Homo sapiens: one gene and its partners. The protein of the gene in region 4 purifies or fractionates together with the protein of the main gene of each other region. This does not show direct contact. Each region holds a gene or a part of one and is shown on either strand. Other genes may lie near its edges.

Evidence for each region.
Region 1: the proteins of ANKS3 (region 4) and CNKSR3 purify together in Homo sapiens (affinity purification with mass spectrometry; one large-scale study listed by BioGRID and IntAct). This does not show direct contact.
Region 2: the proteins of ANKS3 (region 4) and KIF2C purify together in Homo sapiens (affinity purification with mass spectrometry; one large-scale study listed by BioGRID and IntAct). This does not show direct contact.
Region 3: the proteins of ANKS3 (region 4) and BICC1 purify together in Homo sapiens (affinity purification with mass spectrometry; one large-scale study listed by BioGRID and IntAct). This does not show direct contact.

Annotation. Positions count from the first base shown.
Region 1 is NC_000006.12:154,507,886-154,512,003, forward strand, and holds the start of CNKSR3 (connector enhancer of kinase suppressor of ras 3), read right to left. Parts: upstream 2,801-4,118; 5' UTR 2,230-2,800; coding exon 2,178-2,229; exon of another isoform or gene 2,054-2,177; coding exon of another isoform or gene 1,984-2,053; intron 1-1,983. UniProt on the Homo sapiens protein: Involved in transepithelial sodium transport. Regulates aldosterone-induced and epithelial sodium channel (ENaC)-mediated sodium transport through regulation of ENaC cell surface expression.
Region 2 is NC_000001.11:44,738,458-44,742,636, reverse strand, and holds the start of KIF2C (kinesin-like protein KIF2C), read right to left. Parts: upstream 2,801-4,179; 5' UTR 2,705-2,800; coding exon 2,635-2,704; coding exon of another isoform or gene 2,595-2,634; intron 1,725-2,594; coding exon 1,630-1,724; intron 1-1,629. UniProt on the Homo sapiens protein: In complex with KIF18B, constitutes the major microtubule plus-end depolymerizing activity in mitotic cells. Regulates the turnover of microtubules at the kinetochore and functions in chromosome segregation during mitosis.
Region 3 is NC_000010.11:58,788,872-58,792,371, reverse strand, and holds part of BICC1 (protein bicaudal C homolog 1), read right to left. Parts: intron 3,111-3,500; coding exon 2,916-3,110; intron 2,691-2,915; coding exon 2,439-2,690; intron 1-2,438. UniProt on the Homo sapiens protein: Putative RNA-binding protein. Acts as a negative regulator of Wnt signaling. May be involved in regulating gene expression during embryonic development.
Region 4 is NC_000016.10:4,710,272-4,713,771, forward strand, and holds part of ANKS3 (ankyrin repeat and SAM domain-containing protein 3), read right to left. Parts: intron 1-3,500. UniProt on the Homo sapiens protein: May be involved in vasopressin signaling in the kidney.

The DNA of each region.
Region 1 (4,118 bases), on a different chromosome or scaffold from region 4:
AATACTCAACAAACATAACAGGATGTGATTTTACGCTTCTCCTTTTCCAATCCCAAGAGGGACAAAAACAACAACAACAACAACAACAAAACCAGACACAAATCTTGAGGGTGTGAAGATCTCACTCCATAATCTTCCTGTGCGCCTGTTACCATTTTTCTGATTGTACATTATCAACTAAGCTGGCAGAGGCTCAGAAAAGCCAGGGTGATAAGATGTAACCCTTTCTTTCTGCTACAGCAGAACTGTCCAATAGAAATATAATGGAAGCCACAAATGTGAGCCCTGTGTTATTTTAGATTTTCTAGGAGACATATGTAAGAAGGTAAAAATAAACAGGTGAAGCTTATTTTAGTAATATATTTTATTTAACCTAACGTATCAAAATACTATCATTTCCACATGTAATAAAAAGTATTAAGATATTTCATGTTCTTTTTTTTCATACCAAGTCTTCAAATGCCATGTGTATTTTAGACTTACAGCACATTGCAATTCTAACCAGCCACATTTCAAGGGCTGCAGAGCCACAAGTGGTACTGGTTACTAAGTTGGACAGAGCGGCTCTAGAAGTCAACAGTAGCTGAAATTTGCAGTGTCTCAAGTTGGCTCTATGAGGGACATACAGATAAAATACATATCAACTCAGTTTCAGGAAGCTGCCAGCCTAGGGAATTTGGCAGCATCTTGAATGGAGGAACACACCTCATTTCAAGCTAGCGTGGGCATGGATGGCTTTTAAGCTCATGCTTCCTACCAAGTACTGGCAATGCCACTTACTCTTTACCAAGGGAAACCTAGTCACCAAGGCAGAAACATGTGTTGTTTTTAGCTTCATTTTATATAGGAGTCCAGGAAATTCTGCTCACTTGACAAACCCGTTCTCAAGGAGTTCTCCCAGAGGAGCAGGAAATGGTCAGACATACCCACTGACACACCCCACACACCTCGGACATCCTATTCCACGTGGTCTATGTGTAAGTCACAGGCGTGAGAAATGAGATGTAGCGGTGATCAGTTTTCATTATGCTGCAGCCATGGGTGGGACGGTTTGAAAGACGACCTGGTCTTACCAGTATTACCTACCTCACAGGCTTACTGTGATGACCAAGGACAATAACAGAGAGAGCTCTTAGCAAACTGTAAAGCGCTACACAATTCTAGTTATTACTGAGAAAGAACACCATTCCTCACCTGGAAGAGCAGATAGAAAAACAAATAGTAACTTGAAACAGAGATGTCGTTGGGGGTGGGGGGAAACCATGAAAATACAGATTGTTCTTGGTGGACTTTGTTCTCTTGAAAGTACAGAAAAGGGTTGAGTAAACTCTAGTACCTTTCCCTCGAAATCGTAGGAGACATTGAAAAGTAAGCGAGCCAGCTAGGAGGACAAGCTTCTACCTCTGCTCATTCCCCCCACCACCCCCCCACCGCCCCAGCCCCACTGCCTTCCTCATCCCAAATATTGTATGAATCAAGACAGTGGTTCCAAACAATTATATTTCTCCTTCCCAGTGCTTACATGTGGCCTGAAAATGCAGCGCCACCGGGGATACTGGCGCCTCCCGGAGCAAAAGTCACTGCCTCCCGGGGAGTCCTGGCTCGAGGTTTCTCCCTGGCGCAAATGCTATGGTGTTGGCTTTTGCGCGGCCCTCTCGCCTTCTCCAACAAAAACAGACAGGCTCGGCGGACCCGCCGGAGTCTCCCTCTACCTGTCCGACAGCCCTGTCACGCCTGCGGACGGCTCTGGGCAGGCGGCATGGACGAGGTCCCGCGGGAGTCACCCACACAAAGGCACCTTGTGCCTCTGCACTCGGGCCCCCGGGTCGCCGGGCACCGCACCGGGGCCAGGCAGGGAGAGCGCCCCCCGGCCCGAGTGCCGAGTCCCGAGATCGGCATCCCCAGCCCTCAACCGCCACAGAAAGGCCACCCCTACTCCCTGGTTTAAAGATAGGGCTCCCCTCGGCTTGCCACAATCCGCACCCTGGAAAGGAAGAGCTCGGAGCAGGTACGAGAGATAGGAGCGCACAGGCCACTCGGCAGAAGTTTGCATTGTCACCGGGCTGTGCCCTCACCGCTTCTCGCCGGGAGGAAGGGCCAAGTACCCTCTTCCCCAGCTCCTCGTCCGCCCCATCCCCGAGGCTGGAGGACTCCGGACCCCCCCAAGGCCCGCGCACCTCTAGTCCAGTCCACCACTTGTTTGGGGCTCCACTTGGTCACGGGTTCCATGGTAAACCGCTTCGCCTCTCGCTGGGCTGGAGAGTCGCAGATAAAGTGCTGCTGCCTGCGCTCCGGTGCCCCTTCCCGGGAGGGCGCGCCCGCGGCTGCTCCCCTGCGCCCGAGCGACTCCGTCAAGACTGCATGGCCGCGGTCAGCCAGTCGTCCCAGCGCGGCTCCGCCAGGGGAGCCCGGCCCTCTCCCTCCAGCTGCCACAGTCCAGCTGCAGCTCCTCCTTCCCCCGCCGCCGCCGGGATCCCGGGCACAGCTGCTGCTCCCGAGCGACGGCAGCTGCAGGCACGCCGGGCTGCGACCCCAGACCCCTGGCCTCGGCTCGGCACGGGAGCCTCCCGGCCCGCGACCACTTCCTCGGATCTCTCGAGGCGCGATCGGCTCTCCCTCGGCCGGTCTTCTCGCCTGCTGGCTCTCCGGGGTCCCCGCTCCGCGTGCGCTGGCGTCCCGGAGCCTTCCCGGCGCAGGTCCCACCTCCTGCGCCGCCCTCCCGTGCCGCCCTGGCAGGGCCGAGCGCAGAGCGTGCGCGCTCGGGTTGCAAAGTTTCAGCTCCGGTTGCTGCAAACCGAATAAAAGAGAGGGCGGGGCCGAGGGTCTAGGGAAACTCGTGGGAGGGGGCGGGTCCGCCCGAAGCGGCGGACTCGGGTTACTTTCCCTCTCTAAGCCGGTCCGGCTCACACCCGCAGCGTCCCGGGCCCCGCTTTCCTTTTCAAGGGGCGGGTTGTAGATCGCGCGCGCACCCTGGAGAGCCCGCTGGTTTGTGTGAGGCCCTGGCCCTGTGGGTAGCAGAACACTCTGTCTCGCTGTGAGCAACAATACACTAAAAAAAAAAGAAAAGAAAAAAAAAAGTAAGATCTGCATGTTCTGTTCATTTTAAATGCTTTATATCGTAATACTACTCTGCCATTAAGCCGTCATTTTAGGTTTCTTAAAGTAGAACAATTTTTTTTTTTAGATGGAGCCTCGCTCTGTCGCCCAGGCTGGAGTGCAGTGGCGCGATCTCAGCTCACTGCAGCCTCTGCCTCCCAGGTTCCAGCGATTCTCCCGCCTCAGCCTCCGGAGTAGCTGGGATTACAGGCGTCTGCCACTACGCCCGGCTAATTTTTGTATTTTTAGTAGAGACAGGGTTTCACCATGTTGGCCAGACTGGTCTCGAAATCCTGAACTCAGGTGATCCGCCAGCCTCGGCCTCCCGAAGTGCTAGGATTACAGGCCTGAGCCACCGCGCCAGGCCAGAACAATTTTATTTCATTTATATGTTGACTGAAATCGTAACAATGTAACTCTTTTAATGCTATTGCTATGAAATTTCAACTTTGCGACTAAAATTAGATTGATGGCTTTTAGCGTTATATTTTGCTATATTATAATTTCATATTTACAGAGTGAGCTAATGCTCCTTGGGATTAGTCATTAACCGTGAGAGGAAAGCTGTTAGCCAAGAAAAAAAAAATAGCTCGTGCACAATTTCAGCGCCTGGCAGGGGAGGGCCCTTCCACATTCATGGACTGCAACTGGGGCCAGAGTTAATGCTAAACTGGGGGAAAATCTAATTTGAATGCCTGCCTCTCCTTCAAGTTCTCCCTGCATCCTAACCGCCCCCCCAACCCCTGCCACCCTCGCCACCACCCCTCCCCTCACCCCCCAACACCCCCCCCAACCCCCCACCCCCGCCCCGCCCCGCCCAGCAACCTCTTCCTCCCACTCTTTTTGGCACTGAATGATTCTTACTTTCAATTACGGTTATTTATTTACATCTTCCTCTTGGAGACTATTAACCCCTTGAGGGCAGAACCTACTTGATCTCATATAGAGTTTTCTCTCCTCCCTTTCTTCCTACCACCTAACTTGTAGCACCCAGCACGGGACCAAAGGCAAGGTTGGTATTT
Region 2 (4,179 bases), on a different chromosome or scaffold from region 4:
TGTGATCCTCCTGCCCCAGCTTCCCAAGTAGCTGGGATTACAGGCCCGTGCCACCACACCCAGCTAATTTTTGTATTTTTAGTAGAGATGGGGGTTTCGCTATGTTGGCCAGGCTGGTCTCAAACTCCTGATCTCAAGTGATCCGCCCACCTCGGCCTCCCAAAGTGCTGGGATTACAGGCATGAGCCACTGCGCCTGGCTGCAGTTTGCTTTCTACAAACATACCAGAGCCGGGCATGGTGGCTCACGCCTGTAATCCCAGCACTTTGGGAGGCAGAGGCAGGCGGATCACGAGGTCAGGAGATCGAGACCATCCCGGCTAACACAGTGAAACCCCATCTCTACTAAAAATACAAAAAATTAGCCGGGCGTAGTGGCGGGCACCTGTAGTACCAGTTACTCGGGAGGCTGAGGCAGGAGAATGACGTGAACCCGGGAGGCGGAGCTTGCAGTGAGCTGAGATCTCGCCACTGCACTCCAGCCTGGGTGACAGAGTGAGACTCTGTCTCAAAACAAACAAACAAACAAACAAAAAAAACCCAGAAAATTATTGATTGCTTCAATTTAGAATGGACCTGACTAAATAAAATCCCAATGCATCTGGAAGGGGACCATTCTTTTTTTTTTTTTTTTTTTTTTTGAGACAAGTCCTCATTCTGTTGCCCAGGAGGCTGGAGAGCAGTGGTGCAATTTCAGCTCACTGAAACCTGTGCTTTCCCAGACTCCAGCAATTCTCCAGCCTCAGCCTCCAGAGCAGCTGGGACCACAGGCATGCACCACCATGCCCGGCTAATGTTTTTTGTATTTTTTGTAGAAATGAGGTTTTGTCATGTTGCCCAGCCTGGTCTTGAACTGCTGAGCTCAAAGCGATCTGCCCACCTCGGCCTCCCAAAGTGCTGGGATTATACATGTGAGCCACTGTGCCCAGCCAAGAAGACCATTTTTATTTTTTGAGGAAAGGTCTCACTCTGTCGCCCAGGCCAGAGTGCAGTGGCTCGATCATGGTTCAGTGCAGCCTCAACCTCCCAGGCTAAATCAATCCTCCCACCTCAGCTTCCCGAGTAGCTGGAACCACAGGCGTGAGCCACCACACCCTGATAATTTTTAATTTTTTTGTAGAGACAAGGTCTCAACATTTTTCCCAGGCTGGTCTCGAACTCCTGAGCTCAAGCAATCCTCCAGACCAGGCCTCTCAAAGTGTCGGGATTAGAGGCAAGAGCCACCGCACCCAGCCAATTTTTTTTTTTTTTTTTTTTTGAGACAGATTCTCACTGTCACCCAGGCTGGAGTGCAGCGGCACAGTTTCGGCTCACTGCAACCTCCGCCTCCCAGGTTCAAGCAGTTCTCCTGCCTCAGGCTCCCAAGTAGTTGGGATTACAGGCATGCACTACCACGACTGGCTAATTTTTGTATTTTCAGTAGAGACAGGTTTCGCCATGTTGGCCAGGATGGTCTCGAACTCCTGACATCAGGTGATCTGCCCGTCTCAGCCTCCCAAAGTTCTGGGATTACAGGCGTGAGTGAGAAGAGCACAGCATCAGAAACTAGGCTCTCACAGATTCCACTTCTGCACAGATCCTTTATGTAGGAAGACATTAAATGTGGTAGAGGAATTCTCATAGAACCTACCTCTTTGCCCTTTGTGGCACCTCCTTCTGCCCATTCCACTGAAACACAGGATTTCTCCAAGTTCACAGTCCTTACATTGGCACTGTGAATTAAACCTATAAAGTATGAAAAAACCAGAGTTACCCATCTCTTTCCTGAGAGCTTCACTTTTAGGATTCCACAGAGATTCCCAAAGTGGAGTTAACCTGAAGGAACAGGCAGCTACCTTAAAAAAAAAAAAAAAAAAAACTAAGAGAAACAAATAAATCTCCTGGGCTTCACCTTTAGAATATCCACAGTGAGGTGGGCTGGGGACAGGTTTTTAAACTGAGCTGCATGGGATAAGGATTCACCCCTACTCAAGAGAGCCTACAAAAAAAGAGAGATAGAGCCTACAAAAGAGAACATACAAAAGGTATGTTTGAGCACAGGATTCCCCACAACCCTTAGATGAACTTTTCCTCAACATAGCATTGAGGATCTGGCCCTTTTGGGGTTTTCCTAACTCATTTCTGGCGGTCATATCTGTCCATTTCCCTAATGACACGGGTATCAGACCTGCCAGAACTGCGGTACCTGCTTAAGCAAAAGAGAGAACGACTACAAGCTCCTCAAGCGCAGGGTTCTTGTCTGTCCCGTTTACCTGACATACCGCAACTGCGCAATATTTATTCGAGAGTAAAGGGGCCAGGAGACCGAGGTCCCCATAAGAGCAGGGCATTTTCAGGGGAGAATTTTGGAAGGGAAGTGAATTTAGAAGTCCCAACTTCCCTGGGAGGTCTACCAGCCTTGGAGAAGGTCCGCCCACTCCCAGAGGACTGCGAAAGGGACCACGTACAGCGCAGGGACTCTCACCCCTGTGTAGGCAAGAATGACTGCCAGTGCAGAGACCCGGAGTGAGTGCGTGTGAAAAGGAGGGAGGGAGAGAAAGAGAGTGAAAGCCCATCTGTGTGTCCGGGGACGGGCAGTAATTTCAGTCGTCTCACCGCTCACGAGTCCCCTTGACCTAGGGACCCCGCTCCTCACCATTACTGCGTTGGATCTTGATAGCGAGACCGGGAAACAGGCGGGCCTGAAGCGACGAGTCCATGGCCATTCGGAGAGTCAGCAAGGAAGAGAAACGCGCAATACCAAGAAACCTCAATTTCGCTAACCCTACGAAGTCTTAACGCCGCGTAAACCGCCGCAGTTTAAATCCCGCGCGCAAGCGTCCTTAAAACGTCATTCCGCTGTCCCCGCCCTCGCTTCCGCCAGTCAGCGGCGCCCTGCGGAGCCTTGGGGGAGACGCAGTTCCCAACCATCTTCCTACGCTTGGCACCGCCCATGCGTCTGGCCACACCCCCGAGCGCTGTGCCTTCTGGGAACTTCGCCGCTACGTGGGGTCTGGGGCTCCCATTTCTGGTATTGTCCTCGGTCACCTTGTACTGCGGGGTTCCCGAAAACTGGGAAACTTCAGTATGTATTTGACAATGAGGGCTCTGGGATCCTACAGACATGGGTTCGAATCGTAGCTTCTTCAATTGCAAGTTCAGTGACCTCGAGCAAGTTGGAGACTTGGCCGGGCGCGGTGGCTCACTCCTGTTAATCCCAACACTTAGGAAGGGAGAGGTGGGAGTGATCGCTCGAGATCAGAAGTTCGAGACCAGACAGGGCAACATAGCCAAGACCCTGTTCTCAAAGCAAAACAAAACCACAGATTAGAAACTTGACTTAGTTTTTCTTATTAAATAGTGCAGAAGCATGTTGCCTCATTCAAGGAGTTATGTATAAATTTCCAGAAAGACACTGATTCACCAGATATTTATTGAGTGAAGTCTACCACCTGCTAGGCATGGTACCAGGAAATGGAGATAATGAACTAGACACATAGTTCCTGTCCTCCTTTTTTTTTTTTTCCATTTAACCCTTAGTGGACACAGCACATGTTTCAGAGAGCACGGGGTTGGGGGTAAGGTTATAGATTAACAGCATCCCAAGGCAAAAGAATTTTTCTTAGTACAGAACAAAATGGAGTCTCCTATGTCTACTTCTTTCTACACAGACACAGTAACAATCTGATCTCTCTTTCTTTTCCCCACATTTCCCCCTTTTCTATTCGACAAAACCGCCATCGTCATCATGGCCCGTTCTCAATGAGCTATTGGGTACACCTCCCAGATGGGGTGGCGGCGGGGCAGAGGGGCTCCTCACTTCCCAAATGGGGCAGCCGGGCAGAGGCGCCCCCCCCCCCCACCTCCCAGACAGGGCGGCGGCTGGGAGGGGGCTGCCCCCCACCTCCCAGACGGGGCGGCTGGCCGGTCGGGGGCTTTCCCCCCACCTCCTGGACGGGGCGGCTGCCGGGAGGAGACGCTCCTCATCTCCCGGACGGGGCGGCTGCCGGGCAGAGTGGCTCCTCACTTCTCAGACGGGGCGGCCAGTCAGAGACGATCCTCACCTCCCAGACAGGGTGGCGGCGGGGCAGAGACACTCCTCAGTTCCCAGACGGGGTCGCGGCGGGGCAGAGGCGCTCCCCACATCCCAGACGATGGGCGGCCGGGAAGAGACGCTCCTCACTTCCTAGACCGGGTGGCG
Region 3 (3,500 bases), on a different chromosome or scaffold from region 4:
ACCAATATAAATCCTACTTAACCTAATGCAGTTTAAACCTTTCCTCCTTCCTGGAGTAAATTGTTACTACTGTCCCTTCTTTTAACTACCTCATTTTTTAGATTTTTTTTTTTTCTCTAATGCTCTACTCACAGCCTCTGATCTACTGAGTCTAGGAACAATGTAATATACTTTCTCTGATGCACAGAATTTCCAGTGTTAGCCCACTGGGTGCTGGAATTTGTAAATGGATATCAGGAGAGGTTACCATTAAGCACACTAGGATTAAAATGAATTACTAAGCCGGGAACCATGGCTCATGCCTGTAATCCCAGCACTTTGGGAGGCTTAGGTGGGTGGATCACTTGAGGCCAAGAGTGCAAGATCAGCCTGGCCAACATAGTGAAACCCCATCTCTACTAAAACTAAAAAAATTAGCCAGGCATGGTGGCATATGACTGTAATCTCAGCTACTCGGGAGGCTGAGGCATGAGAATCACTTCAACCCAGGAGGCAGAGATTGCAGTGAGCTGAGAACACACTACTACACTCCAGCCTGAGCAACAGAGTAAGACCTCACCTAAACTAAAAAAAGAAAAAGAAATAAAATACTATGCTCCATTTCTCCTGTGGAAGAAATTGATTTTTTTTTTTAAACGGAGTCTTGCTCTGTCACCCAGGCTGGAGTGCAGTGGCGCGATCTCGGCTCACCGCAACCTCCACCTCCGCGGTTTGAGCAATTCTCCTGTCTCAGCCTCTTGAGTAGCTGGGATTACAGACCTTCACCACTATGCCCGGCTAACTTTTCTGTGTATTTTTAGTAGAGATGGGGTTTCACCATATTGGCCAGGCTGGTCTTGAACTCCTGACCTTGTGATACGCCTGCCTCGGCCTCCCAAAGTGTTGGGATTACAGGTGTAAGCCACCGCGCCCAGCCAGGAAGTGATTTTTATAAGAATAGTGCTATACAAAATGGTGATGGTATTTAAAATACGGGTTAAAGCCTTTTAATTTCTCCTTCAGTTATTTCAATGTTGTGCAATAATATGAGTCATTATTTTTGGCAGGTATGGTCAAAGTATAAATGTGCATTAATAACTGTAGAGAATATTTGAAAAATTTCACTAAACTAAAAAATAACATCTAAAGAACTTGTAAAGCAGAAAAAAAATGAAGATTACAACAATTCTTGGATATAAATATAAATCTGACTTGTAGTACAGTATATTAAAAATAACCTGATAAAATAAGCTCGGCTAAAAAAAATCATGACAAATTTCTTAAAATCGTGGATTACAATCTTACTGATTCCAACAAGTTCTTGTCTGTCAGAGGAATGGAATCAACAATAAAAACTTAGATTTTCTGAAAGTTTCTCAAAAATAAACTCTGCAAGTTAATAATAGTAAATGTCACACCTGAGGCTTACTGATTCAAATGCCACTAAAGGTCAAGCACTGAATGAGAGAATACAATGGTGTTTTTAATACAAATATTTGTAAGCCCAGCATCATGTCCATCCATTTTGTTACTACATTATCAACCCATACACTGGGATAGTTTATTTCATTCCATTTCATTTATTTCATTTTTGAAATGCAGTGCAGTGGTGCCATCTGGGCTTACTGCAACCTCTGCTTTCTGGGTTCAAGCAATTCTCCTCCCTCAGCCTCCTGAGTAACTGGGATTACAGGCACCTGCCACCGCATTGGCTAATTTTTATATTTTTAGTAGAAATGGGGTTTCACTATGTTGGCCAGGCTGGTCTTGATTTTGACCTCAAGTGATCTGCCCACCTTGGCCTCCCAAAGTGCTGGGATTACAGGCATGAGGTACCGCACCTGGCCGAGGGGTTTTAAACAAATATGGGAAGGATAGAAATATTGCAATTATAAATTAGAAGTAGTAAAGTAGTATTGAATTATAATATATAACTTTGCTTTTCTTCCTTCAATAAGTGACGCTCGAATTTGTGACTTAAATAGTATTTTTTAATTGGATCAAAGATTTATGAAATGTACAAATGTTTTGGGCTGACAAAATTTGTCTTTGATGGTGAAATTTAAATAGTATTTTTACTTTTCTGTTTAAACAGAGGACTTTTTTTTTTTTTGCCAAATACAAACTGCACACTAATATTACAGGTCAGATGAAAACAGTCACCTTCCATCCTTGCCACAAAATGCAGTCAATTATTTCACTATAATTCTCTTCTGTGTTTAGTCTAAGTTAAAAAGAAAACACTGAAATAAAATTACATATGCAATGAAATTAAACCTGTTGAGGCACTATGAACCTTATTACTCTTCCAGTTTATTTCCTTTTAGCAAGAAACTTCCTTATTTGACGAGGCTTCCGAAGTGCTTTCCTAAATATCACATTAGTACAGTGGATGGAAAAACATGCACTGAATCCAAAGAGGTTTAAAAAAATTGTAACACTTATTTCAGTAACCTTACCATGAGATATTGCCTTGCAAGACAGACAGACTCAATGGTGCCCTGGAGGTAGACGGTAGATTTCTTTTGTGGATTACTGGGATCAGGAAAGTGGATCTGAGCACCTGTTCTCTGCATGATATGTTTGATGTTGCTCCCATTTCGACCCATCATAAAGAGATGATGTTGAGCTGCAATATCTAGTTGTGTGCTCACAGGAATAGCTGATGCTAAGCTCCCAGCAAGATGTTCTAACAGCATGGCAGTTCCTTCCTAAGAGAAAAGGGTGGGAAAGAAATAATCCTATACATTAACTGTTCATATACGGGGAAAGATTCTATTGCATTTCTAACAGCTATGGAAAAATACAGCATATTCTGCAAACCAAAATGTAGAACGAAGGAAAATTCTGGAAATCAAATTAGTCTAATATTCTTTAAAAATGAAACTCATGTAACTTGTACATATAGGATGTGCAGAATTATCTGAATAATTTACCTTCACAGCACTAGTGTTATTCTGAGACCCTCGTACTATGACAGTAGCACCATACATTCGGGAACGCTGTTTAAATGATACTGAAATATTGTACGTTTGTGATATATGCTGAATAGAGGGGGAATTAGGATCAGGAACCGGTTGAAGAATTCCAGCAATTGGTAGCTCAAACATCAGCACCAAAGGAAGCAGCTCCTAAAATGAAATGATGAGAATCCAAAGCAGAGAGTTAAAGCATTAGACATTCAGACATGTGTATCATTCATTGGTTCTTTTCTGAAGATAGATTTTAAAGCATAAACTGCCCTTATAGATATTAAGTTTAGCTACATTATATAAAGTTTTTTTTTTTCCTTTCTGTTTTTTGAGTCAGAGTCTTGCTCCGTCACCCAGGCTGGCATGCAGTGGTATCATCCCAGCTCACTACAGCCTCCACCTCCTGGGCTCAAGGATCCTCTCACCTTGGCTTCCTGAATTAGTGGCACTACAGGCATGTGCCACCATACCTGGCTAATTTTTAAAAATGTTTTGTAGAGACAGACAGGGTCTTGCTATGTTGTCCAGGCTGGTCACGAACTCCAGGCC
Region 4 (3,500 bases):
TCACCTCGAAATGATAAATGTTTGAGGTGATGGATAAGCTAATCACCTTAATTTGATCATTACACAGTGTATACATGTATCAAAACATCACACACTGTACCCCATAAATATGTAGTTATTTTGTGTCAATTAAAAATGAGATAAATATTTTCCAGGTCAGGTGCAGTAGCTCATGCCTGTAGTCCCAGCACTTTGGGAGGCTGAGGCGGGTGGATTGCTTGAGCTCAGGACTCTTGAGACCAGCCTGGTCAACATGGCAAAACCACCTCTCTACAAAAAATACAAACGTAAGCTGGGCGTGGTAGGGTGCACCTACAGTCCTAGCTACTCGTAGAGCTGAGGTAGAAGGATCGTTTTGAGCCTGGGAGGCGGAGGTTGCATTGAGTCGAGATTGGGTCACTGGACTCCAGCCTGGGTGACAAAGCAAGACCCTGTCACAAAAAATAAATCAATATTTTCCATGCCAAAAAAAGATAATAACAGGAGAAAATAACCACTGAAACAGAGTATTTTATTTTGTTTTATTTTATCTATTTACTTTTCTTTGAGATGGAGTCTCGCTCTGTCGCCAAGCTGGAGTGCAGTGGCGTGATTTTGGCTTACTGCAATCTCCCCCTCCCGGGTTCAAGTGATTCTCCTGCCTCAGCCTCCAGAGTAGCTGGCGCACACCACCACATTGGCTTATTTTTGTATTTTTAGTGGAGACGGGGTTTCACCATGTTGGCCAGGCTGGTCTTGAACTCCTGACCTCAAGTGATCCACACGCCTCAGCCTCCCAAAGTGCTGAGATTACAGGCATGAGCCACTGCACCCAGCCTGAAACAGAATTTTTTTTTTTTTTTTTTTTTTGAGACAGAGTTTCGCTCTTGTTGCCTAGGCTGGACTGCAATGGCACGATCTCGGCTCACCTCAACCTCTGCCTCCCGGGTTCAAGGGATTCTCCCACCTCAGCCTCCCGAGTAGCTGGGATTACAGGCATGCACCACTACGCCCAGCTAATTTTATATTTTTAGTAGAGATGGGGTTTCTCCATACTGATCAGGCTGGTCTCGAACTCCCGACCTCAGGTGATCCGCCCAACTCGGCCTTCCAAAGTGCTGAGATTATAGGCATAAGCCACCGCGCCTGGCCCTGAAACAGAATATTTTAAAAGGAGAAAAAAATTGGCCGGGTGCGGTGGCTCACACCTATAATCCCAGTACTTTGGGAGGCCCAGGTGGGCAGACCACCTGAGGTCGGGAGTTTGAGACCAGCCCGGCCAACATGGAGAAACCCTGTCTCTACTAAAAACATAAAATTATCCAGGCATGGTAGCGCATGCCTGTAATCCCATCTACTTGGGACGCTGAGGCAGGAGAATCACTTGAACCCGGGAGGCAGAGGTTGCGGTGAGTCAAGATCGAGCCACTGCACTCCAGCCTGGGGAACAAGAGTGAAACTCTGTCTCAAAAAAAAAAAAAAAAAAAGGGAGAAAATATTATCTTGTAGACCTCTGCAGATAAGTCTGAAATCCTAGATGAAGTGATCTCTCAGGAAAATATAATTTACCAAAACTGACCCCATAAGAAAAGAAAGTATGAGGAGGCCAATCTCTATAGAAGAAATAGAAAAACTGTTATCGAGGAACCACCTCACAGAAAGAGACCAGATGGTTTCATGGGAGGATTCTATCAAAACTTCTAAGACCAGGTAGCACTAATGCTACGTGTATTGTCCTAGAACACAAAAAAGGAAGGAAAACTTCCAAATTATTTTTATGAAGTAAACACTGATACCCATACCTGATAGACAGAACAAAAATAGAAAAGTATAGACCACGCCGGGAGCGGTGGCTCACGCCTGTAATCCCAGCACTTTGGGAGGCTGAGGCAGGCGGATCACTGGAGATCAGGAGTTCGAGACCAGCCTGGCCAACATGGTGAAACCCCGTCTCTACTAAAAATACAAAAATTAGCTGGGTGTAGTGGTGCACGCCTGTGATCCCAGCTACTCGGGAGGCTGAGGCAGAAGAATTGCTTGAACTCAGGAGGCGGAGGTTGCGGAGGTTGCAGTGAGCTGAGATCTCGCCACTCCAGTCCAGCCTGGGCAACAGAGCAAGACTCCATTTCAAAAACAAAAAAAAAGAAGAAAGAAAACTATAGACCAGTATCACTTATGACTGAATATCCATAGAAAAATACTAAATATTAATAAACAGAATTCAAAAACACATTAAAATAGTACAACATGTGGGATTTATGCCAAGAATGTAAGGTTGATTCATTATTAGGAGGTTCATGAAGACAATCTACCATATGAAAATTCACCATCGTCTCCAAAGATATGGGAACACAATTCAATAGTTACTCCTGTAAAACACCACTCAGGAATAGAAGAACTGAGGAATACTTTGTTAATAAGCTAAAATAACATATGCCTTCCCTTTTACAGTCAGCCTCTCATGTAACGTGGCATTTCCACTAAGATCAGGACCAAGGTAAGGAGGCTCACTATCTCCACTATGTTGAACAATGAGCTAGAGGTGTTAGCAACTAAACAAAAGAACGGTGCAATTCAACAAAGTCAGAGTCATGAGAATCAGCAGGAAGCAGTGTATCCATCGATACTTAAAGATTATATGTTAGTACACCTGTAAAGCCCTAAAGAATCAATAACAAAACTAACCTGAACAATGTAAGAATTCTGTAAGGTAGCAGAATATAAAATTAGTTTGCAGGGCTGAGTGCAGTGGCTCACACCTGTAATCCCAGCACTTTGGGAGGCTGAGATGGGTGGATCACCTGAGGTTGCGAGTTCTAGACCAGCCTGACCAACATGGAGAAACCCCATCTCTACTGAAAATACAAAAAATTAGCCGGGCATGGTGGTGCACGCCTGTAATCCCAGCTACCTGGGAGGCTGAGGCAAAATTGCTTGAACCTGGGAGGAAGAGGTTGCGGTGAGGCAAGATCGCTTCATTGCACTCCAGCCTGAGCAACAAGAGCGAAACTCCCGTATCAAAAAAAAAACAAAAGTTTGCAGAAATCCACTGCCTTCAAATGCACTGACAATATGCAGTGAAACGATATAATGACACCACTAAAGGACTTATTCACGTATCCAACCACCACCTGTTCTCCAAAAACCTACTGAAATAAAAAATAAATAGCACTGAATAATTAATACCCTGAGAGTTGGGGGGAAAAAAAGGATATAATGATAGGGAAAACCCCATTTACAATAGCGACAAAGATGATCAAACACTTAGGAATAAACTTAAGTCACATGCAAAATGTAGATGAAGAAAAATTTAAAACCCTCCTGCAAGACCCAAAAGTACATTGGAACAAGAAGTCATCCCTTGTTCTTGGATAAGACAACAACACAAAGATATAGTTAATTTATACATTGTCACAATCTCAGTAAAAATATCAATACTGTTTTTAAGGAGCTAGACAAGTTGATATTCAAGTTCATATAGAAGAATGAACAAGCCATAGCTCAGGAAACAGTGAAAACAG